Regions from separate parts of the Homo sapiens genome. Here region 1 is linked to region 2. The links come from fine-mapping of genetic effects on gene expression. A gene starts in region 2. The other region holds a variant in brackets. All regions are shown on one strand. Distances are between the middles of the regions.

What was found.
Region 1: its variant is fine-mapped to the expression of ACP1 in tibial nerve (GTEx, PIP 0.96).

What each region holds. Positions count from the first base shown.
Region 1 is chr2:128,783-144,775 of GRCh38, reverse strand. No RefSeq gene overlaps it. Among named protein-coding and RNA genes, the nearest start is that of FAM110C, 90 kb to the right of the region's middle. The variant C/A (reference allele first, on the strand shown) is at 9,190.
Region 2 is chr2:253,889-269,177 of GRCh38, reverse strand. It overlaps ACP1 (acid phosphatase 1), which reads right to left and starts at 4,231. Exons shown (of 6, transcript NM_004300.4): 1 at 4,171-4,231. The coding sequence starts at 4,213. SH3YL1 (SH3 and SYLF domain containing 1) reads left to right here and starts at 5,146. Exons shown (of 10, transcript NM_015677.4): 1 at 5,146-5,194. The coding sequence starts at 5,194. RefSeq lists an enhancer at 4,121-4,170 and silencers at 4,521-4,600, 4,671-5,250.

The DNA.
Region 1 (15,993 bases), 120 kb after region 2:
AAAATTTTTTTCTATTACATTTAGAAGGTGGTTTTATAATCAGCTATGAAGCTCTAACAGGGGCTCTTGAATGCAGGTTTCTGATAACTTTGGAGATTTTGACATCAGAATAGAGGAAAAACATTCAGGAATTTGAAGAGCTAAAATTTTCATTAATATCAAGCAGGACAGGAATTAACTGCATAAACTGAACCAATAGGAGACTGGAGTGATCCTTTTGGCATTTTGCTTAAAATATTGCCAATCCTTTGTTTTGCTTTTCAGAGTCAAGGAAACTTTTCTTTTGAGCTATTGACAGCTTTTTAACAACTTAGTATACTCCCATGAACAAAATTTGGAGTATATTTGTTTCTCTCTACTTGGTATTCTCCAGAATTTGGAAACTATTTGTGAGTATTCTCAAGTTACGGCAATATACTTATTTGTGTAAGTGTAGTAAGAATCTGTCTTCTTTTGTAACAGGACACAATTGGAAAAACTGGTTATTTTACCAAGGCTTTGACTGGAATTGTATTCTTTCCTTTTAGGAATCAAACTTAACTCATAAAGCCAATAAAGCCCTTGGGAAACTGGCCTCCTATTCCATGTACACAGTCCCTGTACAGGGTTTCTGATCTGTGGTAAGTAAAGAATGTCACTTTCTGACAGGCCAGGAACCCCAAGTTATCTTGGAACCTCAAAAGGAGAGGAATTCACCCAACTCATAGGTATTTGATGGTACAAATCCATGGCTGGGCTTGGCTTTAAAAAAGCCTTATCTCAGATTCCTTCTACAGAACAAAGTTCCATAAAAGCCAGTTTAAAAGGCTGATGTGAAAATAATTATTCTTGCTGCACTTTATACAGATAATCTGACCAATTATAATAAAGCAAATTAGTCCTACCATGATTTGTCTTTTAATAAAAATGGGAAACTGGAGAGATAAAAATTATGTTTCAGAAACTATAGTACACTTCTTGCTAAATTCTAGTCTTGCCTGATGTTTTCCAGTTTTTATTATTTTCTATGGTTGAGATTAAATTCTAATTTTTCTGGCTACAGGTCTCCAAAATAATGTTTTCAGTTTTTTCCTTTTTCCCCATTTTTCCTGATTGGAAATCACGGAAACCTAAGCTGTGCTTTCATAAAGCCCTGTGAACTGAAGACTAGACAACTTAAACCTCAGAAGAAAACAGCAACAACCTGTTTACATGTGTTACTGTTGCATACTATTACGTTTCAGCAGGCGCTGCCGCTAAGCTCCTGAAACAGAGAGTGCCGCTGGGAAGAAATCGACCTCTCCCACTCCAGTGCTGCACACAGTGCCCCATCACGACGACCCCCTCTCAGCAGGAAGCAGCCAGGAAGATTACAATGCCCCATCTCCCTACGATTCTCGTGATAAATAAATATACAAGCATGGTAGAAATCATGTGCAAATTGACAGTGGGGATTGTGGCGGGCCAGGTCTCACTAATGCAGGCCTCCTTCACAACTGTTTCAGTACTGACTGAGTGGTTAAGTTAAATATTAAAAGCTAAAAAAGCCAGTGCCCTTTCACAAAGGCTGGAATGTAACAAAAGCCCACCCAGAGTTTTGCCTAAGCTTTTCATGGGCCTTAAAGCATGACAAAATAAGGAAGGAATTCTGAACAGGACTCGTTTAGGATTAAACAAGTTTTATTATCTGTATTTAATAAATGTATTCATATAATAAATATAAATTTGTTTTAAATGTATTTATAAAGATATTTAAAGCCAAAGAATATAAACTTTTCAATAGTTCAAATCTATATTGCTGCTTTGCTTTTCTGATAGATTGTTCCAGTTTATGGTTTATCATTAAACTATTTACAGGATGCTGTCTCATTTTTAAAACTCATAATCTGAAAGATATTTAATGCTTATTTTTATTAGTTTTCATAACTAGATTCTATGTTTTTCAGTGTACCCCTTGTTTTATAGTATTGTGATTATTCTTAGTTATAAACCCTTGACCTGGACGTTACTGTCTGGGGATTCAACCTCGAGTCCTTACCAGGAGTCACGGCCATTTCAGTCACAGGTGCGGTCACAGGCGAAGCTCTCGTGAAGCCGAGCTTCTCCTTCACTGTGATGGTGGGCGAGTTATCAGCAACACCTGGCGGGGTCTTTCTTTTTTTGGTTTTGAGACGGAGTATCACTCTGTCATCCAGGCTGGACTGCAGTGGCGCTATCTCGGCTCACTGCAAGCTCCGCCTCCCAGGTTCACGCCATTCTCCTGCCTCAGCCTCCTGAGTAGCTGGGATTACAGGTGCCCACCACCAGGCCCGGCTAATTTTTTTTGTATTTTTAGCAGAGACGGGGTTTCACCGTGTTAGCCAGGATGGTCTCGATCTCCTGACCTCCTGATCCACCCCTGGCGGGGTCTTTCTTAGCACAATGATCATCCAGTCTTGTCACTGGAACTCTATGTAGCTTTTTTCTGGTCAAAATTGATAGCACGTCTCCTTGGGGACTTTTCCAGCATCTGCCACGTGATGGCAGAATAAGCCTAGAAAGATGGCAACCCAGTTAAGTAGTACATCTATGGTGTTTTCCTTTATAGGTAAGCAGTGAACTTAAATCCTGAATTCATAGGTCACTAGATGTTAACTCCAAAGGCGAAATAGCATGCTTGCTAGGAGTTGATCTTATTTTTAACAGGACCAGTAACAACACTCGAATAAGCCATTGGTTTGGTGTAAGTTAACCAAATAATTCTTTAGGGTGTGTGATATGGTTTGGATTTGTGTCCCCGTCCAAATCTCATGTCAAATTGTAATTCCCAGTGTTGGACGAGGGGCCTGGTGGGAGGCAATTGGATCATGAAGGTGAATTTCCCCCTGGCTGTTGTCATGGTAGTGTGTGAGTGCTCACGAGATCTGGTTGTTTAAAAGTGTGTAGCACCTCATGCTTCCCTTTCTTCCTCCTTCTCCAGCGTGTGTAGCACCTCATGCTTCCCTTTCTTCCTCCTTCTCCAGCCAAGTAAGATGTTCCAGCTTGCCCTTCGCCTTCTGACATGATTGTGAGCTTCCTGAGGCCTCCCCCTCAGCATGCTTCCTGTACAGCCTGAAGAACCATGAGCCAATTAAACCTATTTTCTTTATAAATTGCCCAGTCTCAGGTAGTTCTTTATTGCAATGTGAGAATGGACTAATACACTGTGGTTTAGTCATTCTACCAGCCCAGGAGCTTGGTGATAATAAAGAGTATAATAATTTAAAGACCTCTGTAGTGTTTTAAAGAGCCCCTAAATTAGCCCCGTAGAAACCAAATGGCTTATCTACTGGATTTTACATGTTCTGGAATCCCAAAGGTTAGAATGATAAAATTCAGTAATGATATGATCATTGTTTGAGCATTTGCTTTAGCACGTGAACGCCCTCCGGCCATCCAGGCATCATACACATCCCTGCTAAACAATAATTCTTAACTTCCGAGGGCACAACTTCTGTAAAGTCCATGTTTGTCCAGTTCTCAGATCATGTTGGCCTCAGCGGGCTTCTTCGACTTAACTTGGGTGTTTCCCACAAATAACTTTGCTGACAAACAGCACACCTTTGTGTCATTTCCTGAACTATTTGACCCTATAGCAAATGTAGTAGAATTCCAAGGTTTTCAGAGTATTCTTTTGTTCAAATGAGCTTGCTGATGGCATGAAAAATCCACTCAATCGTACAACTGGGGGACAGGAATAATCCTATTGAGGACACCCCATTTTCTTTCTTTCTTATTTTCTAAGTCTTGGAGGGTTGTTTGTTGCTGAAACAGCGAATAGGAGTTCCTCTGCAGCAGTAACGGGGCTTCGACTTCCGCAGTTCAAACTTTATTAGCCCTTTTTACTTCCTTTATATGTTTCATCTTGTTAGGTCTGTAATGCAGTCTACAGTGCATTACAGAAATCTGTAAAGACAATGGCAGTGACTCTAGTAAGACAGCAGTTCGTTTCCCAAGTGATATTTTAGTTCTCATTGATATTAGAAAGCCTCTATTCTTCCAAATTTGGCCCGTGACACGACAGACCCCCAATGCATATTAGCCATCAATTAGACATTCTCCCTTCGTAAGACAATGGCCAATTATGCAGTTTGCATAACAGCTTCGGGTTCTGGCACCTGAGCTGATTTTACATTTGAGAGAACTTAAACCTCCCCATGTGTCTCGCACGAGACCAGTCACTGAGCACTGTTGAGTCAGCATTGGGACCAGGAATATCAGCCGAATCAGACCCAGACTGAGCACCTTGTGCTGTAGCAAAACGTGGCCAGCATCCGGCAACAGAAAGGTCAGATTCAAACAGTTCCTTCTGCCTGGAGTGCAATTCGATAGACTAGTGCATAACTAGTCTGGCGGTGCACCGGTGAGTATGGTGTCTTACAGACTTGCAAGGACTCGTAAAGTAGCAGTAGCCCTTTGCGTTAAGTGTAAGCTAAATATCCTAGAGTCCAAGTAAGAGCCTTTGCAGTCTGGAGGCAGCTGCTGTTACAGCTCATCGACACTCTGGTGTCCCCAGAGCAACAGAGAAGGGCCTGTGGTCAGGGTCTGATTCAAAGTAGCCACACCTCTAGCCTCTCCCTTGTTCTCTAACAGAAAAGACGTTTGAAATGTCATCTCGGGTAGGCACCCAGCACAGATGGGGAAACAAGGCTTCCTTAGGATCTGGAAGACTTCTTCAGCTTATTTAGACCACAGTAAAGTTCTGGTGAACTCCTCATGTGACATCATAGCAAGAGGCTTAGCTTTTTCAGAATAGGAAAGGACCCGTAGTCTGAACCCCCAAACAACCCCCAAACTGGCAGAGTTTGTGTATATGTGTTAGATAGTGTGTGCTTAAGATAGGCTGACTTCAGGATAGAACCGGTTTTCATCTGCCAGCCTAAAACAAATGTCCCAAATTCCTGACTTCACTTTGATAATACTGCAATTTATTTAGAGAAGCAAAATTTTTATTAAATTGAAAGTATCTTGTTTGTAAGCACATACAGTGTTAACAGCTATTAATAAATCGCTCACATGTTGAATTAGTATGAATTAAAGGTGGGGAAAAGTTCTCTTAGTTCTCTTGTGAATGTCTAGAAAGTATAGCAGGCAAATCTGAGGATCCGTCACCACAAATGCGGAAGAAAGAAGATTCCAGGGGCACTCAAAGAAGAGCCTGGTACCTCAGTGAAAAGTACAGAAAAGACGCAGAATGCAGCCCCATATGGAACAATAGGAATCAGAGCAGCCTCAACCTCACGTATTTCTCGCAGAGCTTGTACAAATCTACGGGCAATTTCTTGCCCAGTTTTCATTCTTTTTCCCAGGTAATTTGGGAATATAAAAAGGAAAATGCGCCTCTCTTGACTATGCTCTGTTTTTCTAACTCTCTGAGTTTTTTATTCCTTGTATTTGAGCTAGAATGAGAGGATGTTGATTTACACATGTCCATAATGTTTTTGTTTTGTTTTAAGCTGTGAAAAGGGGATGATCTCCATCTGTTTGTGCTGCTATAACCAAATACCTGAACCTTGGTAATTTATAAATAGTAGGAATTTATTTCTCACAGTCCTGGAGACTGGGAGTCTGAGATCAAGGCTTGGCAAGGTCAGAACCTGGTGAAACTGCTCTCTGCTTCCAAGGTGGCACCATGACAAGCGCTGTGTCCTCAGAGGGGACGAGTGCTTCATCCTCACATGGTGGTAGGGCCAGAAGGGCAAAAAGGTGGAATGCTGTGTGAAGCTTCTTTCACAAGGGCCTTAATTCTATCGTGAGGGAGGAGCCTTATCACCTCATCACCTCCTAAAGGTCCCGCCTCTTAAAACCTCGACATCGGAAATGAAGCTTCAACACACATTTTGAAGGGGACACAAACATTCAAACCAGAGCAGGATTCAATTTCTTTTACTAACCCATATTATTTGTTCCTTGAGCCCTTCTAATTTGAGATGCTTTTATTTTATTTTAATTTTTAAAATAAATTTTATTGTGTATATTTAAGATGTAAAACATGATGCTTTAAGATACATATATATACATATATACAGTAAAATGGTTATTATAGTGAAGCAGATTAACACATCCATCATCTCACATAGTTACCCATTTTTGTTTTTGTTTTTGTTTTGTGGTAATAGCAACTAAAATCAACTCATTTATCAGGAATTCCAAATACAGCACAATTTTTTTTAACACTAGTCCTCATGTTGTACATGAGATCTCTGGACTTGTTTATCCCACACACCTGCTACTTTGTACCTTCTGACCTATATCTTCCCATCCCCCACCCTCTCCAGTCCCCCTGGTAACCCTGTTTCATTCGCTGTCTTTGTTTACCTGTTTTTTTAAAAGATTCAATATGTAAGTGAGATCATGGAATATTTTTCATTCTTTGTCTGGCTTGTTTCACTTTGCATAGTGTCCTCCAGGTTCATGCATGTTGTGGCAAATGGCAAGATCTCCTTCTTTTTAAAGGCTGAACAGCAAAAAACACAATCAACAAAATAAAATGGCAACCTACAGATTTGGAAACAAAATCCAATATTTATAAAGAACTCATACAATTCCATATTAAAAAAACAAACAACCGAATTAAAAAAATGGACAAGGGACCTACATAGCCACTTCTCCAAAGAAGACGTTAAAAGTGGCCAACAGGTATATGAAAATGTGCTCAATGTTATCAGTCACCAGGAAAATGTGAATTAAAGCCACTGTGAAATGTCTCACATCTGTAAGCATGGCTACTATCAAAAAGTCAGGAGATAATAAGTGTTGGTGAGGGTATGTAGAAAAGGGGATGCTTGTACTCTGTTAGTGGAAATGTAGATTGCCACAGCCATTATGCAAAACAGTATGGAGGCTCCTAAGGAAATTTTAAAAAGAACTACATTATGGCCTAGCAATCTCTCCTCTGGGCATATAGTCAGAGAAAGTGACCTTGTGAAAATGTCGGCAGTCTCAGTTCATTGCAGCATTATTCACAATAGTCAAGATATGGGAAAAACCTAAGTATCTATTTGATGAACAAATAGATAATGATAGTTCTTTTATTTTAGAAAGTGCTTATTTACCAACTCCTTGCCTCCTGGGAGCTCTGAAAACACTCCATCTACAGTATGGAGAATCTACTTGTTGAGAAACCTCAGAGAAGAAAGAACAGGGAGAAGGTTGTCTAGAGGTACCCAAAAGTTGGATGTTTTCCTAGGTTGACGTAAAATGATAACCGTCTGTAGAAATTGTGGAGTGTGTGCCTTCAGTGTTCACAAGAAAGATCAGGACAAGCTTAAAGTGGGAAAAGAAAGAGACACATAAATGCCTCCCACCCTCAGCTCTGAGGTTACTTTCCACAATTTTCCAATTACTTTTTGTCCAATTTCCTTAGGCAAAAATCTCTTGGAGATGACGGTAAAGCTTTAGAGTTAGCTTGTATCTCTCAACTCTTCTTGACCCTCGTTTAGCATTCATTTTTCCTCCACTGTCCTGATTTCTTACAACAGTAACATATTGACTTTCCATTACGGGGTTCCTTCTTGTCTGGTGGTGGCCCCAGATAAGGGTTTATTCCCTTTGTGAATAATTCTAACTGGGAAATCTTAAGGGCTATTTTTTTGTCTTCTTTATCTTTCTCCATATTTTCCCAAACTTGGGCTACTTCCCTCAAAACGTGAGAAATTATTCTTGCCACCCAACTACATTTTCCCTTATTTGCTCTCTTGAATTCTCTGCAACAAAGCTGCCACAGAAGTGGAGAGGATCAGGAGCCCGGACCCCCTGAGACATGCCTTGGACTTAGGAAAGGTGAACAGCTGGTGAAAACTCACGGGCCTCATGTGGCTAAGAAGCGTGGCACTGTGGCTTCTCCCAGTCCACCTTCAGTGGAGAGGCTTCAGGAACTGCCCTCGGTGGCCCCTCATGCTGAGCATTCCAGGCACAGCAAGCAGCCTGAGTTGCTGGAGCAGCAAGCAGTTATCCTCCTGGAGCCCGGCATGGCAGAGTGAAGCACGCCTTCCAGGAGAGGGACCCGCTGACAGCATTCCAGAGTTTTCAGAACATTTTACCATTAAAGCCAACAGCAAACCACACAGGGCCTTTCAGCCACATTACCAATTTTACTCAATGGTAACTCAAAACTTCTAGTGAGAGTTTGGGATTTTCCCTGGGAACCCAATTCCACTGAACCAAAGTAGTTGAAGAAACACTTTTTAGCAAATAGTCCCTTATTTGATTAAAGATGGCTACAAATACTCCAAGAAATGTGCCCAGTGGAGGGCTTAGTTGAGGGATCCCATCCTTATAACCAAATTTTTGGGAGGAAAAAAAGGGAAATCTCTACCCAGAGGAACATACCACTTTGTGTAGAATAACCTTTTTTCTTTTTAGTAGACTATTAGTCCATGCTCACATTGCTATAAAGAAATACCTGAAACTGGGTAATTTATAAAGAAGATTTTTTTTCTTTTTTTTGAAACAGTCTAGCTGTGTTGCCCAGGCTGGAGTTCAGTGGTGTGATCTCAGCATCATAGCTCACTGCAGCCTTCACTTCCCAGGTTCAAGAGATTCTCATGCCTCAGCCACTCAAATAGCTAAAGGCGTGCGCCACTACACCTGGTTAATTTTAGTGTTTTTAGTAGAGACGGGGTTTTGCCATGATGTCCAGGCTGGTCTTGAACTCCTGGCCTCAAGTGATTCGCCTGCCTCAGCCTCCCAAAGTGCTGGGATTACAGGTGTGAGCCACCACGCCCAGTCTGTAAAGAAGAGATTTAATTGGCTCACGGTTCTGCAGGCTGTACAGGAAGCACAGTGGCATCTGGGGAGGACTCAAGAAGCTTCTAGTCATGGCAGAAGGTGAAGAGGAAGCAGGCACATCTACATGGCAGAGCAGGAGGAAGGGAGGAGGGTGCTAAACACTTTTAAATAACCAGATCTCATGAGAACTCACTCACTGTACAGTACCAAGGGGATGTACTAAACCATTCATGAGAACGCCGTCCCCATGATCCGATCACCTTCCACCAGGCCCTACCTCCCACACTGGGGATTACAATTCAATGTGAGTTTTGGGTGGGGACAGAGATTCAAACCATATCAGTAGGCTTTATTTCTTAGAGCAGTTTTAGGTTCACAGCAAAATTGAGCAGAAGGTACAGAGATGTCCCATATACTCTTAGCCCCACCTGTGTGTAACACTCCCACCCCCATTATCAACAT[C/A]ACCCACTAGAGTGGTGCATTTTCTTACAATTGATGAGCCTGCATTGCCACCTCATTAATCACCTAAAGTCCATAGTTTATATTAGTGCTCATTCTTGTTACTGTGTATTCTATGTGTTTTGACACATGTACGATGACACGTTTCCACCATCATAGCATCATATGGAATAGTTTCACTGCCCTAAAAATCCTCTGCACTCGGCCTATTCATCCCCGCCTTCACCCAATTTCTAGAAACCACTGATATTTTCACAGTCTCCATAGTTTTGCATTTTCCAGAGTGTCACAGAGTTGGAATTCTACAACATGTAGCCTTTTCAGATTGGCTTCTTTCATGTAGTAGCATGTAAGTTTCCTCCATAGCTCGATAGCTCCTTCCTTTTTACTGATGAACAATATTCCATTGTCTGGATGTACCACAGTATATTTATCCATTAATCTACTGAAGGACATCTTGGTTCCATCTAAGTTTTGGTGATTATGAGTAAAAGTTTTTATTATTGGGGAAAAAAATCCCTGAATGTATGCAGTTATCCAGCAAGTAGTTACAAAGCTACTGTGAATTTTCAGCTCATTTATATGAATAAAACCTACGGTTGTTATACATCACCCTTCTTTTAGTAAACAGTCAGAAGATATTCAGTTTGCACCAATAATTCCATTGAGCTTACTTTGCAATTATTTTCCAACTAATTCTTTACTAGTACTTCCAATGAGTGATTTAGCACATACGATTAATCACACCCTTTAACATGCCTCAGCAATATTAGATTAAATTCACTTTCCCACGTTTCCTAGAAATCTTTTTTTTATGTAGAATTACTGCATCTTTACGTACTGGCTTTACACTTTTTTCTCATCCTTTCCATCTGTTTGCACTGCTTTCTGGATAATCTTTCCTCTCAACCAAAATCTTTCAGGTTACTAATCACTCTCTATATCCAATCAGTTGTGCTGTTCAGAGTTGTGTTTTTTAAATGCTATTTTTATTGAAGTATAATATACACATATGACACGCACAAATCATATTACGCTGAGTGTACAGCTCAGTGAAATATCACTAAGTGAAACATCTTTAAGTACAACCAAGATCAAGAAACAGAATATTTCCCAGTACCCAGAAACCCTATTTTTCCTCTTCACAGTTACCTCCCACACTTCCAGTTTCCTGAAGACAATACCATTCCGGTTAGAATATATTAGTGCTGCCAAGTTTTTGCACTGTGTATAAATGGAATCATAATTGTCCTTTCTTTCCTGACTGGTTTCCCTCAATCTTACTTTTGTGAGATTCAGCCACGTTGTTGTGTGTGGTAGTAGTTTACACTGGCTACTTTTATGTTGTGGTTGGGTTCCTCCAGCCCTAAGGGGGACTCCTCAGGCTCTAGCTGGAGACAACCATGGTAGAGACTTTTCCCATTGGCAAGCATGCTCACTCCTCCAGTAACTCACCCTGCAGTAGACTTTGCCCATTACAATTATAAAAAACACACCCCTAGGTGGAGGTTTTAAATGCTAATGAGACATTTCATGTGTGTACTAGCATGTACAGCCATAGAGCATGTGGAACCACCTAATACATGATTGCAAGTGACAGCCCCTCACATCCCTTCATGAATAATCATGTAAGATCCTCATAAAGAGAGTCCCCAGCACTGGCTGCTGCTGGCTCACTCCCTCTCTCCAGCAACCTGCTCTGCCTTGTCATTCAGTGTGTGCTCTCCCTTTAAATAAACCTCGCTGCTGCCGCTGCTTTCCAGTCAGGCCAGCCCACTCCCTTCTTGAACTGTCCTCTATCTTCCCTCAAGAAACTCTGCTGCTTAACCCTTGCTGTGCATCTCTTGGCTGAATTCTTTCTTCCAAGAAGGCAAGAGCCACAGACCCTGCACCCCTCCCAGTAACATTTGTACGGTATTCTACTGTGCAAATTTATAATAATTTTTCCATTCCACTGTTAATGGACATTTGAATGGTTTCTATTTTTGCTGTTTCTAATAATAGAGCCATCAGCATATGTGCTTTTCTTGTAGGTATATCTAAGAGTAGGAATCCTTGGATCACAAGATACATCCATTTTGTTTAGTTGTTCTTTCCTTACACTATATTTCTTTTAAAATCAAATGCTGTGTGCTTTTTATCTTTCAGAAATTCTTCTAATTTTTTGCTGATTACATTCTTTCTTGTCTTTTTTTTTTTTCCTTTTTTGTGACAGTGTCTCACCCTGTTGCCCAGGCTGGAGTGCACTGAGTGATCTCAGCTCACTGCATCCACCACCTCCTGAGTTCAGTGGATCCTCCCACCTAAGCCTCCTGTGCGGTTGGGACTACAGGCATACGCCACCATGCCAGGATAATTTTTAAAACTTTTTGGAGAAACAAGGTCTCACTGTATTGCCCAAGCTGGTCTCAAAGTCCTGGGCTCAAGTGATCCTCCTGCCTTAGCCTCCTAAAGTCCTGGGGTTACAGATGTGAGTCATCATGCCCAGCCATTAATTATTATCATTTTATTACATCTTTTCTATAATTTCAAGGACTTGGAAGTAGAAAGAGTTAAGAATAGGAATGTTAAATCTTCTGTTTTTATATCAAATCCAAACCACTTTAGATTTCCACCAAAATGAGAAGGCATGGAATTATTACTCTGATTGGCTCAGGAATGAGATGGAGTTTCACTCTTGTTGCCCAGGCTGGAGTGCAATGGGGCGATCTTGGCTCACTGCAACCTCTGACTCCTGGGTTCGTGTGATTCACCTGCCTCAGCCTCCTGAGTAGCTGGGATTACAGACATGTGCCACCATGCCCAGCTAATTTTGTAGTTTTAGTAGAGATGAGGTTTCTCCATGTTGGTCAGGCTGGTCTCGAACTCCTGATTTCAGGTGATCCCCTCGCCTTGGCCTCCCAAAGTGCTGGGATTACAGGCACGAGCCACCGCGCCTGGCAGATTTGGTTTTCTAATGAGCTAAAAGTCTCTCCCTGGCATCTCTCTTGAGTAAAGTCTGTTCATTGGGTTGTGAGTCTCCTTGTAGATTTCTTTACTTCCACACTGTGCTGGCTGGCACCATGGCTGGCTGTGTGAATGAAGGTGCTGCCCCCAGCTGTGTCTCTCTATCCCAAGCACGTTCCATCCACTCTCCTCAAGGCTCGCTTTTTCTCTGTAGGGTTACTGCTCCCCTTTCTGTGGGAAATCTTGCTAACCAAGATTGAAATGGACTCCTCCATTGTTCGGCACCATCAAGTTTGCCCCAAACAGCTAATAAGTAACAGTAGGATTTTCCTATTCATGTATTTTATGTTTTGTGTATTTTAGACATAAAATACATGAATAGGAAACTTGAGATTTTACAACATTATGAATATTGAAAGTTTCAACTCCCTCACTTCCTCAAAAGACTAAAGAAACTGCAACGCTTTACTGTGATAATTACAATGAGGACAAAGCATCATGGCTGTCATAATCAACTAAAAACCCCTGCTGCCGCTTTGCACTTCTCAGTGTGAGGCACAATTTCTGCTTGCTGTCCTCATCTCAGGGGTCCCTAGTCTAACAATGCCTCAATCCAGTTGACACCCATTTATCTTCCTCAACAAGATAAACATAGTGAGATGTTCAGTCCAGGCAGACTAGGTGCATTGCCCAAGGGAGAGGCATTCAGTGGTGGAAGTGAGACCACTGTGTGCTTCTCATTGAGAATTCCCCCTGCAATGTCACCATATACAACCTGGCAGGCTTGGTGCAGGGCTTGCTTTGTAATTCTATGGCCCAGCCCTAGGAAAATTGAGTAAACAATGGCACAGGGTTCGTCTTGATACCATTTATTCCAAGTGCAAATTCTATTGAAAACTTAATGTGAAACAGATCGCCTCTTCTCTTAAATATTATCCATTGTAGTGTCCAACTGAGCAAGTCCTGACCCTAGCATCACATTGTCAGAGTAAGATGCAAAGTGTTAAGAACAGATAATGGTCATGTATCAAGAGTGGATCCCAGTGGGAACATTCCATTTCATGCGTAGTTGTTGACACGTCTGCAGCTTTAAGCTACACAGTTCCAGATGCATTTTTTTAACATGAATACCTCAGCAAATAACTTTAATTTCTATTCACAGATGTCTGTGCATCAGTGTGATTCCAGGTGAATAGAAGCATAGGATCCCTGTGATAGAAAAACATGTTTTAGAGCATTAATGAAAACAGAAATATTACAATGCAGTGGAAACAACAAATGGCTAAGCAAGTGTTACTATGGTCATATGAGCACTATTGTCCCTGAAACTTGCCTCTCTCCAGCCATCAGATTGATTTAGTATTACCAGTCCCTGATCCAGATTACTCTTCTAAACTAAAAACAAAAGGTGGCCATGCACTGTAGCTCACGCCTTTAACCGCAACATTTTGGGAGGCCATGGAGGGAAAATTGCTTGATCCCAGGAGTTCAAGACTAGCCTGGGCAACATAGAGAGATTCCATCTCTACAAAAAAATCTAAAAATTAGCCAGGTGTAGTCGCATATGCCTGTGGTCCCAGCTACTTGGGAGGCTGAGGTGGGAGGATCAGATGAGCCTGAGAGTTTGAGGCTGCAGTGAGCTGGATTATGCCACTACACTCCAGCCTTGGCAACAGAGCAAGACCCTATCTCAAAAAAAAAAAAAAAAAAAAAAAAAAAAAAGAGCAAGAGGAGACTCAGAAAATACAAATTACATTGTAGATTTTGACTAAAATATAACATGTTGACTGGATGCCTCTCATTGCCTTTGAAAAGTAGTTTCTGTAACACATAGACCAATGGTTCTCAAATTGGCTGCATATTAGAATCACACTAAAGCTTTAAAAAACACTAATGCTTAGACTCCTTCTTCAGATACTCTGATGTAGTTATTTTGGGGTGGGTCCTGAGTATTGACACTTTTTTTAAACTCCGAAGGCAAATCATTGATTTAGGTGAAACTCAACACTGCAACTTGCAGGAAACCTAAGACTTCAGAGTTCTAAGTGTTTGGATGACTCCCTGAGCAATCCTCGGCAAAGCTTTGTTCTGCCCACAATATGCAGAAATGTAAGCAGCATCTAGCTAACCATCCATATTGCTCTATATAGCACTCACAAATAACAGCACTAAAGAGTTTAGAACAATTTATTAATTATTCTCCTAAAAAATGAAATGGACATAGACCAAGTAAAACCCTCCCATATCCCAACCCTCGATTGCAACTGTGCCTGCCTACTTCTCCTGATTTTCATTTGAAGATAAGAGGTCTTATGATTTTGAAATGATTTTCCTGTCTACAAAAAAGTTATCTAACCTTAACTTTTAGCCACAGATTCATATCCTCCAAGAAGGTAAAAACATGTCCTGTTCATAGGTATTTTCTGTTTCCTTAAATGAATCTCCTAAGTCTTGCATCAGTCTCCTCCTAAAGACGTCTGTGGACTCTTTGTTCTTGGTGCTGTGCCTTCACTTACTGTGGCATTGTGACCTAGAATACCTTTCATTTTCTTGATAAAAGGTCAATCCTTAAAAGTCTAGCTGAAATCCTACCATCTTTATAACCATTTATTTATTTGTTCATTATCCATTTATTCATTTATTCAGTTGATAAAGAAACATTTATTGAGTGTTTAGTGCAAGACTAGAATTGATATATCTACTCCAATTTAATATGTTTTTTTTAATTTTCTGGTTCTTAGCCATATATTGGTCTATATTAGTGAAGAACAGAAAATGAAGTATAGAGAAAAATTTAAATCAAGGCTAACTTCCGGAAGCCCTAGGCAGAGCAATCAGGCAAGAGAAAGAAATAAAGGGGATCCAAATTGGAAAGAAGGAAGTCAAACTATCTGCTTGCCAACGATATGATCATATACCTAGAAAACCCTACAGACTCCTCCAAAGACTCCTAGGCTTGATAAATAAATTCTTTAAAGTCTCAGGTTACAAAATTAATATACACAAATGAGTAGCACTGCTATGCATCAACAGTGACCAAGCTGAGAATCTCATCAAGAACTCAATCCCTTTTACAGCAGCTGCAAAACAAATAAAACCTAGAAATATACTCAACAAAGGAGGTGACAAAGCTCTACAAAGACAGCTACAAAACACTTCTGAAAGAAATCAGAGATGACACAAACAAATGGAAATATATCCCATGCTCATGCATTGAAACAAATGGAAATATATCCCATGCTCATGCATTGAAAGAATCAATATCATGGAAATGACCTTACTTCCAAAGCAATCTACAGATTCGATGCAATTCCTATCAAAATACTAACGTCATTTTTTCATAGAATTAGAAAAAACAATCCCAAAATTCATATGGAACCAAGAAAAAGCCCAAATAGTCAAAGCAAACCTAAGTAAAAATAACAAATCTGGAGGCATCACATTATCTGACTTCAAATTATACTATAAGGCTATAGTAACCAAAACAGCATGGTACTGGTGTGAAAGTAGATACATAAATCAATGGAACAGAAATAGACTCCCCAGAAATAAAGCCAAAAACTTTGAACCAACTGATCCTCAACAAAGCATACATAGAAATAATTGGAAAAAGGACACCCTCATTCAATAAATGGTGCTAGGAAAACTAGATAGCCACATGTAGAAGAATGAAACTTGATCTCTATCTCTCACCACACACAAAAATCAACTCAAACTGCTTTAAAGACTTAAGTCTAAGACCTGACACCGTAAAAATTCTAGAAGAAAACCTAGGAAAAAGTCTTCTGGACATTGGCCTAGGCAAATAATTTACAAGAAGGAAAAATCCAATTTGTATACTGTAAATGAAATAACATAAGT
Region 2 (15,289 bases):
ATCAGCACTATTTTAATTATTGAAAGGCTTCCCATGGGTGTGTAACTCTTTTACTTGTCACCATATACCCTGGGAATATTTTTAACAGCAAACATTGTATTCCAAATTAAGACAATTATTATTTTGGATCTGTAGAACAACAGATGCCTAGTATCTCAGCATCTAAAAATATAATAAAGACTAGCCCCACACGTTTACAAATAATTATCTTTAACTGTAAAATAACAGCTTACTTTCCCCACAACAATATGAAAACTTGCATTATTAACTGTCCTAAAGGCTAGCAGTAGCTTGCCCTGTTGATTTCGAAAGTTGATGCCACCAAATTTTGTTATGAAAAAATGGAGCACCCCGGTCATCAGTGAAACACTGCATGTACTTCAGGTTTCGCCTATCAAACAAGTTCTAAAAACAGAACATTCCATCTTCAAATGCCTTTAAAAAATGTTTCAATCTGTAAAGTCTCAAGTTTGTCTTTTCCAAATTAGGCAGACTATTTTATACCCTTCTTCAGCATCTTCAATTCAAGGATGGAGACTCATAAAAGGCAGATAGGCTCTGGGAGGGTGGGGCTGTGTCTGCTATACCTGGTAAGAGACCCAGCACCCAGTATGGGTGTAGCCCAGAAGTAAAGTGACTCCACCAGCATGTGCTATCTCCACCAACCATGCTGGCTGGGTCATGGCTCCTGCATCATCTTCACTAATAAGTCTCTATTGCAAAAACATAAAGCACCCTTCATAATTGTGCTGTAGTAAGGAGCTCAATTATTTTCCATCATTAGCTTCACCAATGAAAAACCTCTGATGCTTTTCTACACTTCAATCTCAATAGGGTCCAAACAAATGCTTTGAATGAACAAAGTTTTTTACATTTCAAAAGCATACAACTCTTACTGTCCTCTATATGGCTACCAAGTAAAATGCCATTTACCGCTCAAATTCCCTCAGAATGCAACCAGTAAAGGCATGCTCCACCTCCAGTTTCATCTCAAAACAACAGCTGAAACTCTTCTTTTTTAAACTTAAATTTGATCACTTCCCACCTCTGCTCAAAACCCTCCAATGTTTATTCAGAGTAAGCCCAAGTCTTCACATGGCCTCCCAAGATCTGGACCTAAAACAGGGGTCTGAAAATCGGCTCATGGTCCACTGCCTTTATGTACAGCCCACAGCGGTAAGAATAATTTTTACATTGTTGAGTAGTTGGAAAAAATCTAAAAGTAGAGTACCTTGTGACATGTGAAAATTATACAGAGTTCCATCCAATTCTGATGTCCACAAATGAAGATCCACTAGAACACAGCCAGGTTCATCATATGGATGGCTACTTTGTGCTACACCCTTTCTGTATGTCATGTGAAGCCAATCTAAAATAATTATAATCTGGTTCTTTAAACAAAGAGTTTGCAGACTCCTGCCCTAAAGGACCAGTGTATATAAGGAATTAACTTCTCCCTATACATCTACAATGGAAGCACTGAGAAAACAGGCGCTCAAATTATCTGCTAAATTTTCAGGTATAGATGAGGAATCCTGACTGAGAAAAACTATCTGGCCACTAGGCCCAGCCACTGCAGCTTCCCTGCGGTTCATGACCATGGCCAGTATTCTCCCTTCAAAACTTTTACCTGCTTTCCTCTGGGTTCAGGATGCTTCTCCAAAATATCCTAGGCTTGCTTCCTCACCTCCTTCAAGTCTTTACTCAAAAGTCATCTATCAGGTGGGGCCTTCCCTGACCATCCCACTCAAAACTGCACTCCACTCCCATTCCCCTTTTCTGCTCTATTTTTCTTAATCTTCACATCAACCGATTGAGCACATCAATTAATACTTGCTGGTGACTGAGAGAACGTGAGCTCCAGAGAGGCTGGGATTTTTGTCTGTTGTGTTCACCACACCACTTAGAGGAATGCATGCCATATAGTAGATGCTCAACAACAACAAAAAATCACTGAATTGTATTGAAATACAATAGTCCCCTCTTTTCCAAGGTTTTGCTTTCCATGGTTACCCCATGGTCAGCTTCAGTTGGAAAATATTAAATGAAGAATTCCACAAATAATTCCTAAGTTTTAAATTGTGCACTGTTCTGAGTAGCAGGATAAATTCTCATGCCATCCCATTCCGTCCTGCCCCAGAAGTGAAACACGTCTTTGTCCAGCATATCCATGCTGTCTATCCACCTATTGCCCTCTAGCTTATCAGATCCATTGTGATGCTATCACAGTGCCTGAGTTCGAGTCACCCTTAGTTTACTAATAATGGCCCGAAATCATAAGAGTAGTGAAGCTAGCAATTCAGATACGGCAAAGAGAAGCCATAAGCACTACCCTTAAGTAAAAAGGTGAAAGTTTTTGACTTCTTATGGAAAGAAAAAAAAAACTTATACCGAGGTTACTAAGATCTACAGTACGAACAAATCTTCTATCCATGAAAATGTAAACAAGGAAAAAGAAATTCCTGATCGTCTGCTGTCTTGCCTCAAACTGCAAAAGTTGCGACCACAGTTTTAAATGCTTAGTTAAGGTGGCAACGGTATTACATTTGTGGGTGTAAGAAACGAGCAGACACATGTTCCAATTGACAGCAATTGGGTTTGGTACTACCCACAGTTTCGGGATCCACTGGGGAGTCTTGGAATGTATCCCCTACAGCTAAAGTGGGACTACTGTATATGCAAGGATACACTTCCCCATTAACAGCAACCATGATGCATTATGCCAGCATAATCGACAATACCAACCAAAACTATACAAGGGAATGGAATATTATTTAGTAACCATCCTTAACCAAACTACTGTTTAATAAACTTATTGATTTCATCATTCAGCCTTCAATGAGTCTTAAAAATCAAATGATGCCCACTACCAATGTGAAACAAGGTAAGCCTTCTAATTCGTCTTTCACAGAAGTTAACTTCTACAAAACCTAGTCAGCGTTTATCATATATTGTCCTAAAGCTGAAAACAAAATGAAAAATAAGCCACAGTTATTGCCATCGACAAAATTAAACTCAGCTGGGATTTCAACAGACTATCAAATAATTATAGTAAAATTTGTGTAATAAAAGATGTCGATAAGGAATCACACCTTTTCTGTATTACATCTTTTACTATATTACACAAATTATAGTAAAATTTGTGTAATAAAAGATGTCGATAAGGAAGCAACTCATGATCTGGGAAAGCAAAGGAGGAAATATTTAGGTTTGACTTTATAAAATAAAAAGGCTTTCCAGGCAAAATGCATAATGGGCACCCAGCGATGAAGGCTCAGTAAGCATGTGAAGTGCTACCGAACAACGAAAGGTTCTGGAAGGCAGTGTCCCGAGGGTGTGAGCAGGAAAAGGTACAGGAGATAAAGTGAGGAGTCTGTAAAAATAAACAGAAACTGCAGGAAATGCAAACTCACAGAAGGTTTTAAGTAACCGGACTACTGACAATTTAGGCCTTCCTCTCAGGGTGGAGGCACCGAGGAATATAACCTTGTAGTGCTACACCAAAGGAAGATCCCTGAAGACCAAACGGAAAATAAATTATGTTTGAAGTAAGGCAAGCTAAGTGTTGAAATTCTAGGAGTGAAAATAATTTAAGCTGGAAAGTTCCTGAAAAGCCATTAATAAAATACACTTTCATTTTTCATGGGCCAAAGTTATATAGGGACCTCCAGGTCTCCTTTGCTTGGCTTTTACAATCAAGAAACCCGAAACCGTAAAACTTCATCTCCCTTTAACTCAGATCCCTATCTAAGCATGGGCTAAGGAAACTAGCAAACAAAACAATGTTGTCATAGGACTCAGGAGGCCCCTAAGAGACCACATCAGTCCGACAACCTCCAGGCCTACCTGGGCCCATTGGAGGGGAACGAGAGGGATTCTAGTAGTCGCAAAGAAAGTACCTTGGCTTGTAGGGGCTGTGGCTGCAGATGCCAAGAGCCCCGGATATATGGCAGGCGCGAGGGGACCCAGGTTTAGCGGGCAGGCTGGGCGGGTGCACGGGGCGGATGGGGAACAGGGGCGCTGCGGCACACTCCTAGAACACCCTAGGCCTCCCAGTCCCTGGCCTCCTCCCCCTCATGGTTCCTAGGCCGGCGGCACAACCTACAGCGCACAAGCCCGATCCAACTCTCCAGAGGACGTCAGAACATGAGTAAGTCGGCGCCCTCTTACCCAGACACACAAACAGCACGGACTTGGTAGCCTGTTCCGCCATCTTCCCGCGCGCAGAGGCGCCGAGACACCGCGGCGTTCCGCACGCCGACGCGGCGCAGGCGCACTGCCACCCTCTTGCCCCGCGCGCCTGCGCAGTCCCGCACCAACGCCAACAGGGCAGCGCGTGTGAGAGCCACGCCTGCGCAATCGGCTCCAGTGCGCCTGCGGAGGCGGTCCTATGACGGTAGTAGGACGGGCGGGGAGGGTCCGCGGGTCACCTGCAGGGACTGGGCCGCCGTTCACCTGCAGGGGCGGGGCTGCAGGTTGTCCGGAGGAGGAGGAGCTGCGGGGGTGGGGTCACCTGGAGGGAGTAGGGCCGCGGAAGGCGAGGGGGTGTGTGTGTGTGGTGGCGGGGGTTGGCGGGGGGGAGTCACCTGGAGGGGGCGGGGCTGCGGGTCGCTTGGAGGGGAAGGAGCCGCGGGAGGTAAAGGTTACCTATAGGGGACGGGGCCGCAGGAGAGGGGTACCTGGAGGAGGAAGGGCCGCGGGTCACCTGCAGGGCGGGCTCAGGCCTCGCGGCTCCGCGGGCCGCCCACCTGGGTTGGGGCACAGCGCGAGTCTCGCGCACGTGGCGGGCTGTGGTGCCTGTCGTTCGAGTTCGCATAGAGGGGCTGGGCGGGTCACGCGGGGAACCTGCCTTGAGCCCCGCGGGGTCCACGCCGGACCAGGGCGGCCTTGGGCCTGGGCGCTCCCTGAGACCCCCACCCCCAACACCGTGCTTGGAGCCGCCGCGGGGCTCTGGGCTTTTCGATCTTGAGGACGGGGCGGTTCCGAAGTCCCTGAGGGCGAAGGCCTGAGCGCGGCCCGGCGGGCGCGTGGTTTTTGTCCCGCGAAACGTACACGGCGGGTGTTTTGCGCCGCCTCCTTCGTCACCTGCCGCAGGTACGCCCTCGCTGGGGCCTCCTTGTCCGCGGGGCGGGGCAGCGCGCCTTCCTCTTCCTGGGCAGCCTCGGGACGGGGCGCCGCGGCCGGGCGGGCAGCAGTGAGTACCCGGGGACCCACCTGTCCGGCAGCACCCTCCCCTCTCAAGAGCTGGGCGGTGGTGGGAGGAGGAGGACGGGAAAACCGGCGATGCCTCTGGGGTTTCTAGGTCGCGCGTCTGTTAACCGCAAACCGCCCAAAGTTAAGATAGAGCAGCTTCCAGGACTTTCTTGACCACAGCGATTTTGATTGAAGTTTAGCCACCGTCTTTTCCATTTTTAGAAAAGCTATTCCGAAGTTTGGAATGATGACGATGGTCGTGTTATTTTTAACTTCCTGATATTTGAACGGCGAGGTGTCAGCGACCATCCTTCCGTTCCACAGAAGCGTCTCTGAAGTTTGGGTCGAATGCGCGCGCTTGGAATGTGCGTGGAACCCGCGGCAGGCGCGGGGAGGAGGCCTTGGCTAGGGCGCCGGCGAGGTTCGAGTTTGCCAGCCCCCCAACCTGGAAGAGAAGGGCCAGCCCCTCACACCCGGAAGGGAAGGGCCGGTCCCCCCAACACCTGGCGCCGGGGTCGCGGGGCCACAGGGCGAGCGCGGGGTCGCGGCGAGCACGGGTCCTCTCTGATCGCTGGGCCTTGGCGCTGGCTGCTGAGTTTTTCCTTCTTTAAGGAAGTGTGGAACTGGTCTCAATCGGTTGACCACCTTAAGGAAATAGGATTTACACTGTGGACAGAGATGTGTCCTTTACACTTCATTTGAACCAATATGCCCATGCTCCTGTGGAGGCTGAGTTGGAAAGTGACACGAAGCTGCCCCCCCGCAAGAGAGCAGGTGCTCGGTTTCTCTTCTGCTTACAGGAGATGCATGTCCTGATTTCTTGTTCTCCTAGGTGTTTTTATTGAGATGTAGGGAATATCTGAATTCATAACGACTTAGAAAATCTGTACACACAGTTGAGAGAACAGGTCTCGAGGCTAAGGTGCTGTTTACTCCCGTGGGCTGGCCTGTTATTAAAATACTTGTGCAGCGACTGATGTTTACAAATTACTATGTTGGAGGTTAAAATGATCAAAGTGATAACCTCCATCCTGTCTATCATGTTTGAGGAGAATTGGTTATTTGGTTCACTAATGTTCTGTTTAAAGAAAATTTCTGTAAAACTAGTAAATGTTACCCCTCATCTTTTGTAAGTTAAAAAAAAGTTTAAAATAATGTTTGCTCATCAAAAGTGATTTGATACTTTTGTTCTGTTTAGGAAAACTTTATTCTCAAGAGATTTCTCATTCCGCAGAAATAAGGATCTGGCATGTCAACACAAACATAGGAAGTTGAGGCAGTCAAAGGGAAATAACTGCTACCCTGACTCTGCTGAGAGCCTCACAAGTCCCTGTGCACGCCAGCTTGTTTGCCAGTGAGTGGCGTCATGATAAGACAAAATTCTCTGCTCTGAGACCTAAGCACATGAAGTTTTTAAAAAAATTTTCTCTGAGAAGATCCCATTTTTTACTCTAAAAGATCAGACCAGTGTGGCATGTGTGGAACTGCTCTGTACCAAGATCACACTCTTCAGTTGGAGAAGAGGAAGGGCAGGAATAAATAAAGGGCTTTCCTGTCTCCCGAGGGAGCAGAGAAAGCTTTCGCTGTCCTCTTCCTTCCCCAGCCACAGCCTGGGGTTGGGGGACTGGAAACAAGCTCAGGCTAGCACTTGATGTTCAGACGGTAGTCTGAAAGTTTGACTAGGGAGTTAATGATCTGACCAGAGAGACAGGTTTTTATTTTGAGAACTGACAAGCTTTGTGTCCTTAAAACAAAGGAAGTAGTTAAACCAAGGCCCCAGAAAGGTAAGAATTGACTTAAGAAACAAAGGCCATAGTTGTCAAGCAGTGGAGTTCAAAATGCAGTTTTGTTAATAAAAGTAGCTTAAAGCAACATTTGAAAGCCTCTCTAAAGATTAGATACATACACTTTCTTTTGGCTAAGATTTCTTTAGTTTATTCTAAATATACCTTTAGCAGCATTCAAGTTCCTTTGATCTTAGATGGAATTTTATCAGTTTAATGAGTTAACCTCCATTTCACATAAAGTATAAGGTTTAATAATTTGATTAATATGTAATCAGTAAGAACTTGGAAAACCAAATTTAGTAAGCTTGCTTTCCTGTAAGTATTCCTTTCATAATTAGAGTCCATTGAAGAAAATAATATAAGGGAAGCAAAAGTTTGGGAATCTGAACTCTGGTAAGGAAAGTGGTGGAGAGGGGCCCTTGGGTCTTCTTGCTTTCATTCCTGACCCTCCGTGTACAACTAGATTGGAAACCGTAGTCAGCTTTGTCACCTCAGGTGGCAATTTACTCCGAGTAGGATTCTCATGTCCCTGTTTGTCCCCAGTGACTCTAGCATTGAGTTTATAGAACTGCGATCAATACCTAAAATTATTTCCAGATCTTAAGCTGATTTATGCTTTTGAGGTTTCCAAAGTAAAAATTGTCTTTCCGGTATTTTATAAGACCTTCTAATTTAAAAAAAAAATGTGTTACTATGAAAATTTAAAACATTTTAACTTTTGTTTTAAAGAAAACTTTATTTGAAAGTTTCTTAGCTTGAGGTTTGGCAGCCACTCTTTTTTTAGAAAAAACTTAAATATTTATAGAGATTTTGCCTGATTCAAGGGACTTAAGACGTTTATGAGAGTGCAGATGCTAACCATGATGTGAGGTTTAAGAGGCTTCATTAGTAATGACCTGTGTCTTCATCAGTATGATAGAATGGGACATCAGCACTCTGATCAGGTCATGCTCTATATGCCTTATGGTACAGCAGAGGAAAAATGGGTGAGCCATCATTTGATGCTGAGGATGGGATTTGAGGCTTATGTCTAAATTTTTATTTGCATATTCTTTTTGTTCTGACAGAGAAATTCACTGCATGTAACTATGACCACGCATGATTTTATCAGAAGTTGATTAGAATCTGTAACATTTTCTGTAGTTCAGCTGACACACTGAAGATGTCCTCACTGTGACCAGCCTTGTCAACAGCTGGATCACAGTGACATAAGCTGTGTCTAGGATGAGTCTTGCGGTCTGCAGCCGTGTGAGGCTGCATCTGATTCCCAAGTCCAATGGCTCTCTTCCCGTGTTTACAGATCAGGCCATGACCTTTCCCTACAGCAGGATGTTTGCAAGATTAACTCTCAACTGAGGAATTTGCTTATTTGCTCTAATACTGCTTGGTTGAGAGAGTTCAAAGTAGAAAGTCTTCTGAGGGGATAAGATTCATGTATTATTTACAGTGCTTCAGTTGCATGTATCAGAAAATCTAGTCTAAATTGCTTTAACAGAAAAAGATGTTGCTGGTCCATTTGACGAAGAAGTCCAGAGCGGCTTGTGACTTCAGTCTGGCTTTGCAGAGCCCAGGTGCTCTCTCCACCTTCTGCCAGGTTCCCCTATGAAGGCTTTGCTCTCAGACTCTCCCCTTGTGGAGACAAAAATCCCACAGCAAGTGGAAACAGAAGTGCCTTGGAAAAAGTTATTCTGGCAGCTCCTATACAAGTCCCCCATCAGATGCTGGTATTGGACCAGCTTTGGTTATAAAGCCCTGCTGTGGCACCAAAAGGAATGTCGTCCTGATACAGCAGCCTCGGGTCACCCAATCCACTCCAGATACTATGGCTGCAGCATCAATGTAAGCAGACAAGTTGTGCTGCCTCTGAAATAAAGTAGATGAAATATTCAGCAGCAGAAAGAACAAGTTTCCACTCCAGTGAACTAATTCAAATGTATCCAGCATCTAGATATATGTATAAATGTAATTAAAACATATTGAGCATCTAGAGCATCTCTCCCAAGATAATTACCACCTGATAGTAATGGCTATAAAAGCTAAAAGTGGAATCAGTCTACATGTTTCGCAATAGGAATCAATTGAAGCATACATCAAAATGCAGACAGTAGTATTGGTGAGTATTAATGTTATAGATGCTTTTTATCCTTCATATTTTCATATCTGTACTTTTTCCTGTATTTTACAATGTATTTGTACGTTGTACAAATAATTGCTGATCATGTAAAAATATAGAAATATAGAAATTTTGTTGCCATACTTGGGTCTTTTCCACTATGAAATTGAAAAAAAATTCTATAATTCCTGGTTCTTTTATAATTTGATATTTGACACTCTAAATCTTCAATGAATTTGGAGTTTATCTTTCTGTAACACAAAGCTGTGAATGAATTTTTGTTTTTCTCCCCAAATGAACATTATCTAGTATGCAATACATCATTTCAACATAGAATTGAGGTGTCATTTTTATTATATACTAAATTTGTAAATATATTTGGGTTAATTTCTGAATTTTCTTCTTTGTGAATTGATTTTTCTCCTATATTTGCATCTGCTATTATGTATTAATTATTGAGGCTTTGTAATGTGTCACAGGTTCTGTCAAGGCTGGGCTGTCATTGTTCTCCTATTACATATTTTTTCCTAGCTCTTCTTGCTTGTTTATTTTCCCATTTGAACTTCAAAATTACTGTGTTTTATTAAAAGACCCTTGTAAGATAGAAGACAGATTTGATTTCATTAAGAAAAAACAGAAAAAAAAGCAAATTCAAAAGACAAGTAACAGAGAGTCAATGTTTTTAACTCATATTCCAAAAAAATATTAATTTTTAATGTATAAATTAATAAGAAACAGAGAGAAACCCCCTGTAAATAACAAGGTGCATGAGAAACCTTTGATAGAGAGAGTGAAATGTGGTCAGCATTGCTCATCATAAAAGAACAAATGGAAAATGCACTGAGAGCTACTGGCCAGGGCAGCGAAATGGCTCCTGCTACTCACACATGGTAAACAGCTAGGAAACTGGACAGCTGTGTGTAGAGCACTTTTTGCACATGGTGGACATGTCTGAGATCCACAAGATAAGGGGAACAGGAGGTGAACTCCATTAGTGACCGTTTTCTGCCTGGAGCACTTCCTAAACTGCAGGACAAGGAGGGGGCACCCAGAGCCCAGGCTCCTGCTTAAAAGAAGAGGCAGAAATTGAGTCTGAAGAGGCTGAGGTAACTGGAATTTGCAGAGCATGTTACTAGCAATGAGGGACGGCTGAGAGAAAGAGCTCCAGAAATCTGCAGAGGGATCCCCCTGAGCCTTCTGCTGAATATTAAGTGCTAGCTGTGTAGGGTGAAATTTGCAAAGCAGGCAAGAACAACTGCCATGAAGCTTTGAGGTGAACTATTCACAGTGCTTGCATCAGGCTGGGGACAGCCATTCGAAACAGCCACAATGGAGACAGCTTATTAAACAACCAGGGCACCCAGGAGAGAGCCCAGAAGGGACACACCTTGATGGATAAAATAGTTCTAAAGGCTACTCTAGACACACAAACAGAACACAACAACAAGCCAACAAGTGATCAAGCTGATCTACAAGTAACTCACTGCCTGCTAACACAAGTGTTAACACTTTTAAGGGAAGCAATGAAATCTAGGCACTCAACATGGTAATATCTACAATCCTGTTTTACTAGAAAGGAGTAAAAACAGGAAAACATAACCCATAGCTGGAAGAAGAATCAGTCAAAAACAGATCGAGAAATGGCAGATTATACAATTTAAAACACCTATTTTACACAAAAAGAATAAAATACCTAAGAATACAGCTAACCAAGGAGGTGAAAGATCTCTACAACAAGAATTACAAAGCACTGCTGAAAGAAATCAGAGATGGCACAAACATGGAAAAACATTCCTTGTTCAAGGATAGGAAGAATCAACATTATTAAAATTGCCATACTGCCTAGAGCAATTTATAGATTCAATACTATTCCTATTATACTACCAATATCATTCTTCACAGAATTAGAAAACAAAACTATTTTAAAATTCATATGGAACCAAGAAAGAGCCCAAATAGCCAAGGCAATCCTAAGCAAAAAGAACAGCTGGAGGAATCATGCTACCCGACTTCAAACTATACTACAAAGCTACAGTAATGAAAACAGCATGGTAATGGTACAAAAACAGACTCATAGAACAATGAACAGAATCGAGAGCCCAGAATTCATGCTACACAGCTACAATCATCTGATATTTGACAAAGTCAACAAAAATAAGCAATGGGGAAAGGACTCCATATTCAATAAATGGTGCTGGAATACCTGGCCAGCCATACACAGAAGACTGAAACAGGACCCCTTCCTTATACCATATGCAAAAAAACAATTCAAGATGGATTAAAGACTTGAATGTTGTTAAAAACTTAAGCCAAATTAAATTTTAAGGAGTTTAATTGAGCAATGAATGATATGCAAGTCGGGCAGCCCCCAGAATCACAGCAGATTCAGAGAGACTCCAGGGATGCCTCGTGGTCAGAACAAATTTATAGACCAAAAAAGGGGAAGTGACGTACAGAAATCAGAAATGAAGTACAGAAACAACTGGATTGGTTACAGCTCATCATTTTCCTTATGTGAACACTTAGCAGTGTATGAGTGGTTGAAGTATGGCTGCTGGGATTGGCCAAGACTGAGCTATTGTTACAGATGCATACTCCTAAGTTAAGTTCTCAATCTTGTCTACATATTAAGTTAGGTGGCAGTTCATCTACAAGGACTCAAATATTGAAGTATGGAGTTCTTCTCAGGTCACATTTAGCCTGTTTTAACAATGTAAAACCTAAAGCTGTAAAAACTCTGGAAGATAAGCTAGGAAATTCCATTGTGGACATAATCGCTGGCAAAGATTTTATGATAAAGATGCCAAAAGCAATTACAACAAAAACAAAAATTGACAAATGGGACCTACTTAAACTAAAGAGCTTCTGAACAGCAAAAGAAACTATCAACAGAGAAAACAACCTACAGAATAGAAGAAAATATTTGTAAGCTCTACATCCAACAAAGGCCTAATATTCAGAATCTATAAGAAATTTAAACAAATTAACAAGCAAAAAAACAACTCCGTTAAAGTATAATAATAATAATAAGTGGTTAAAGGACGTGGACAAAAGATTTAAGCAGACACTTTACAAGATATAGAAATAGGAAAAAGTGTTCAACATCATTAGTCATCTGAGAAACGAAAATTAAATCCACAGTGAAAGGCCACTGTGTACCACTAAAATAACTAAAATTTTAAAAACTGGACATTGCAAGTGTTGGTGAGGATATGGAATAACCAGAACTCTTATAAAAGTTTCTGGTGGAAGCCTGAAATGTGTAATCACTTTAGAGAACTCTTAGGTGGCTCCTTACATTGTTAAATACACATTTACCACATGAACTGGCAATTCCTATCCTAGGTAATTACCCAAGAGAAATAAAACATTTTTTCTTTTTCTTTTTTTTGAGATGGAGTTTCGTTCTTGCTGCCCAAGCTGGAGTGCAATGGCGCCATCTCGGCTCACTGCAACCTCCACCTTCCAGGTTCAAGTGATTCTCCTGCCTCAGGCTCCTGAGTAGCTGGGATTACAGGCGCACGTCACCACATCTGGCTAATTTTTTGTATTTTTAGTAGAAATGGGGTTTCACCATGTTAGCCAGGCTGGTCTTGAACTCCTGACCTCAGGTGATCCCCCCACCTCGGCCTCCCAAATTGCTGGGATTACAGGTGTGAGCCACCGTGTCCGGCCATAAAACATTTTTTTACAAAAGGCTTACAAAGGAATATTTATAGCAGTTTTATTTGTAATAGCCAAAAGCTGGAAACAACCCAATTGTCTATCAACAGTGACTGGAAGGACAAATTGTGCTATGTCCACACATTAGAATACCAGTTGGCAGTCAAAAAGGAAGAGCTGATCTGTGCAGCAATTTGAGTCTCAGTAATTTCATGGTGAGTAAAATAAGCTAGACAGAAAAGAACACACACTGATGACTATATGAAGTTCTGGCACAGACAAAATTCATACTTAATGACAGAAATCAGATTGGCACTAACCTGAGGCAGGGGCTGGGTATAGGAGTGACCACTACAGAGGGCACGGATGCTGTGATCAGGAGTGGTCTCTACCTCTGTCCATGCACACTGAGCTATACCTGTAACAGGTAGATTTCATTTTGTAAATTGTATCTCATGAAGTTGATTTGAAAAGCCTACACTGAGAGGCAGTATTTTAACTATTCTGAGATAACATTGATTAAAAAATGCAACATGCCAAAATACACTAATGCTGTGATGCCACTTGTTTTTAAAAGGAGTAAAGAGCTACACACATGCATCATGCACACTTAATTTTGCATAAAGTATCTGTGGAAATACCTTCCTCTATCTGACTTAATACCATTGATGAATCTTGGGATGGATTTTTTTCCTGGTCTGGATCTTGTTAATACTCCTGTGTTGAGCCACAAAGAACTGATACTGACATCTTTTAAAGAAATTTAAATAGAACTCCAAAATGACCCTAAGTCAGTTTTCACTTTTTAAAATTTTATTTTATTTTGAGGCAGGGCTTTGCCCTGTTGCCCAGGCTGGAGTGCAGTAGCCCAGTCATAGCTCACTGCAGCCTTGATCTCCTGAGTTCAAGTGATCTTCCTGCCTCCGCCTCCTGGGTAGCAAGGACTTCAGCAAGGACCATGACTGGCTAATTTTTTAAATCATTTTATTGGTAGAGATGGGGGTCTCACTATGTTGCCCAGGCTGGTCTCGAACTCCTGGCCTCAAGTGATCCTCCTCCCTTGGCCTCCCAAAGTGCTGGGAGTACCCAGCCAGTTTTCACTTTTAAGATAAATTACATGTTTCAAACATTCCAGGCACCAAAATATATCACATTTTATTGGAGATATTTATATTTTGCTGAATAAAAGAAAGGGATTTTTTTCTCTGCTGTTTCAGCATTTGATCTGTCGAAAGAATAAACCATGAGTTTATACATGAGCTCTGACACAGGTTTTAATCAATTTTAAAAGTTTATTTTGTCAAGGTTAAGGACAGCCCATGACACAGCCTCAGGAGGTCCTGATGACGTGCTCAAGGCGATTTGAGTATAGTTTGGTTTTATAAATTTTAGGGAGACATGAGACATCAATCAATATATGTAAGATTGATTAGATCCAGAAAGGCGGGACAACTTGAAGTGGGTAGGGGGCTTCCTGATCATAAATAGATAGAAGACAAACAGTTGCATTCTTTTGAGTGTCTGATTAGCCTTTGTGATTTACAGGAATAGTCACTTAGGCTGTAGTCTGGCTTAGTGAAACAACAGGGCAAAGGAAACAATCAGATATGCATTTGTCTCACGTGAGCAGAGGGATGAGTCTGAGTTCCATCTGTTGTCCACAGGGAATTTCCTTGTGATCAAATTGTGAGGGAGGTGTGTAGCTTCTTACCTTTGTAGCTATCTTTTTAGGAATAAAATGGGAGGCAGGTTTGCCTCACAGAGTTCCCAGCTTGACTTTTCCCTTGGCTCAGTGATTCTGGGGTCCTGAGATTTATTTTCCTTTTACAAAAGCAAGCTTCCATTAGCGTACTTCATCTCTGTTCTGTAAATTACTGAGGCGAAACAGTGGAAATGAATGCCTTCAACCTTCCAGATCCTGGCATCCTGCAGTCAGTCACGCATGTGCCTCCTAATTGTAGACAGTGAGACAAGAACTTCTCAGCCTCAGGGCACTTGTGGTCCTACACTGAAGCTATTCAGCTTCTTCGCTCTGCTGATCCCTCGTCCAGTAACAAGAGAATAGTCTATCTTCTCGATATACTTCAGAGCTGGAAGAATTATGTGAGCTTTGTTATGACAAGCCCTCTGATGAGTGTATGAATGTCCAGGCAACACTGTAAACGTAAAGTGCCATAGAAATGCAGGCCGGCGTTACTTGTAGGCTCAATTCCCAAGTCTTCCTAGAGTTTTACTCATCAGAAAGTCTACAGGCAGCCAGTTCCAACATTTTTGGCAAGAACAACAAAATATATTAAATTTATACTATATATTATAGATAGTTACAAAATATATTTTTAAATTTTAAATTCTTATTTTAAATTAGTATTGAAGTCTGTTAATTGCAGGAAGAAGATACATAACAGGGAGGTTTGGCCAGGTTTTGTTTAACATCCTTTGGGGCCCAAGGATTTTATAATTTCTGAGATGAGAGTTTAGAGTTTCTGACTCTCAGCATAGATTTGATTTATTAGGAGAAATAGAGATGATACTG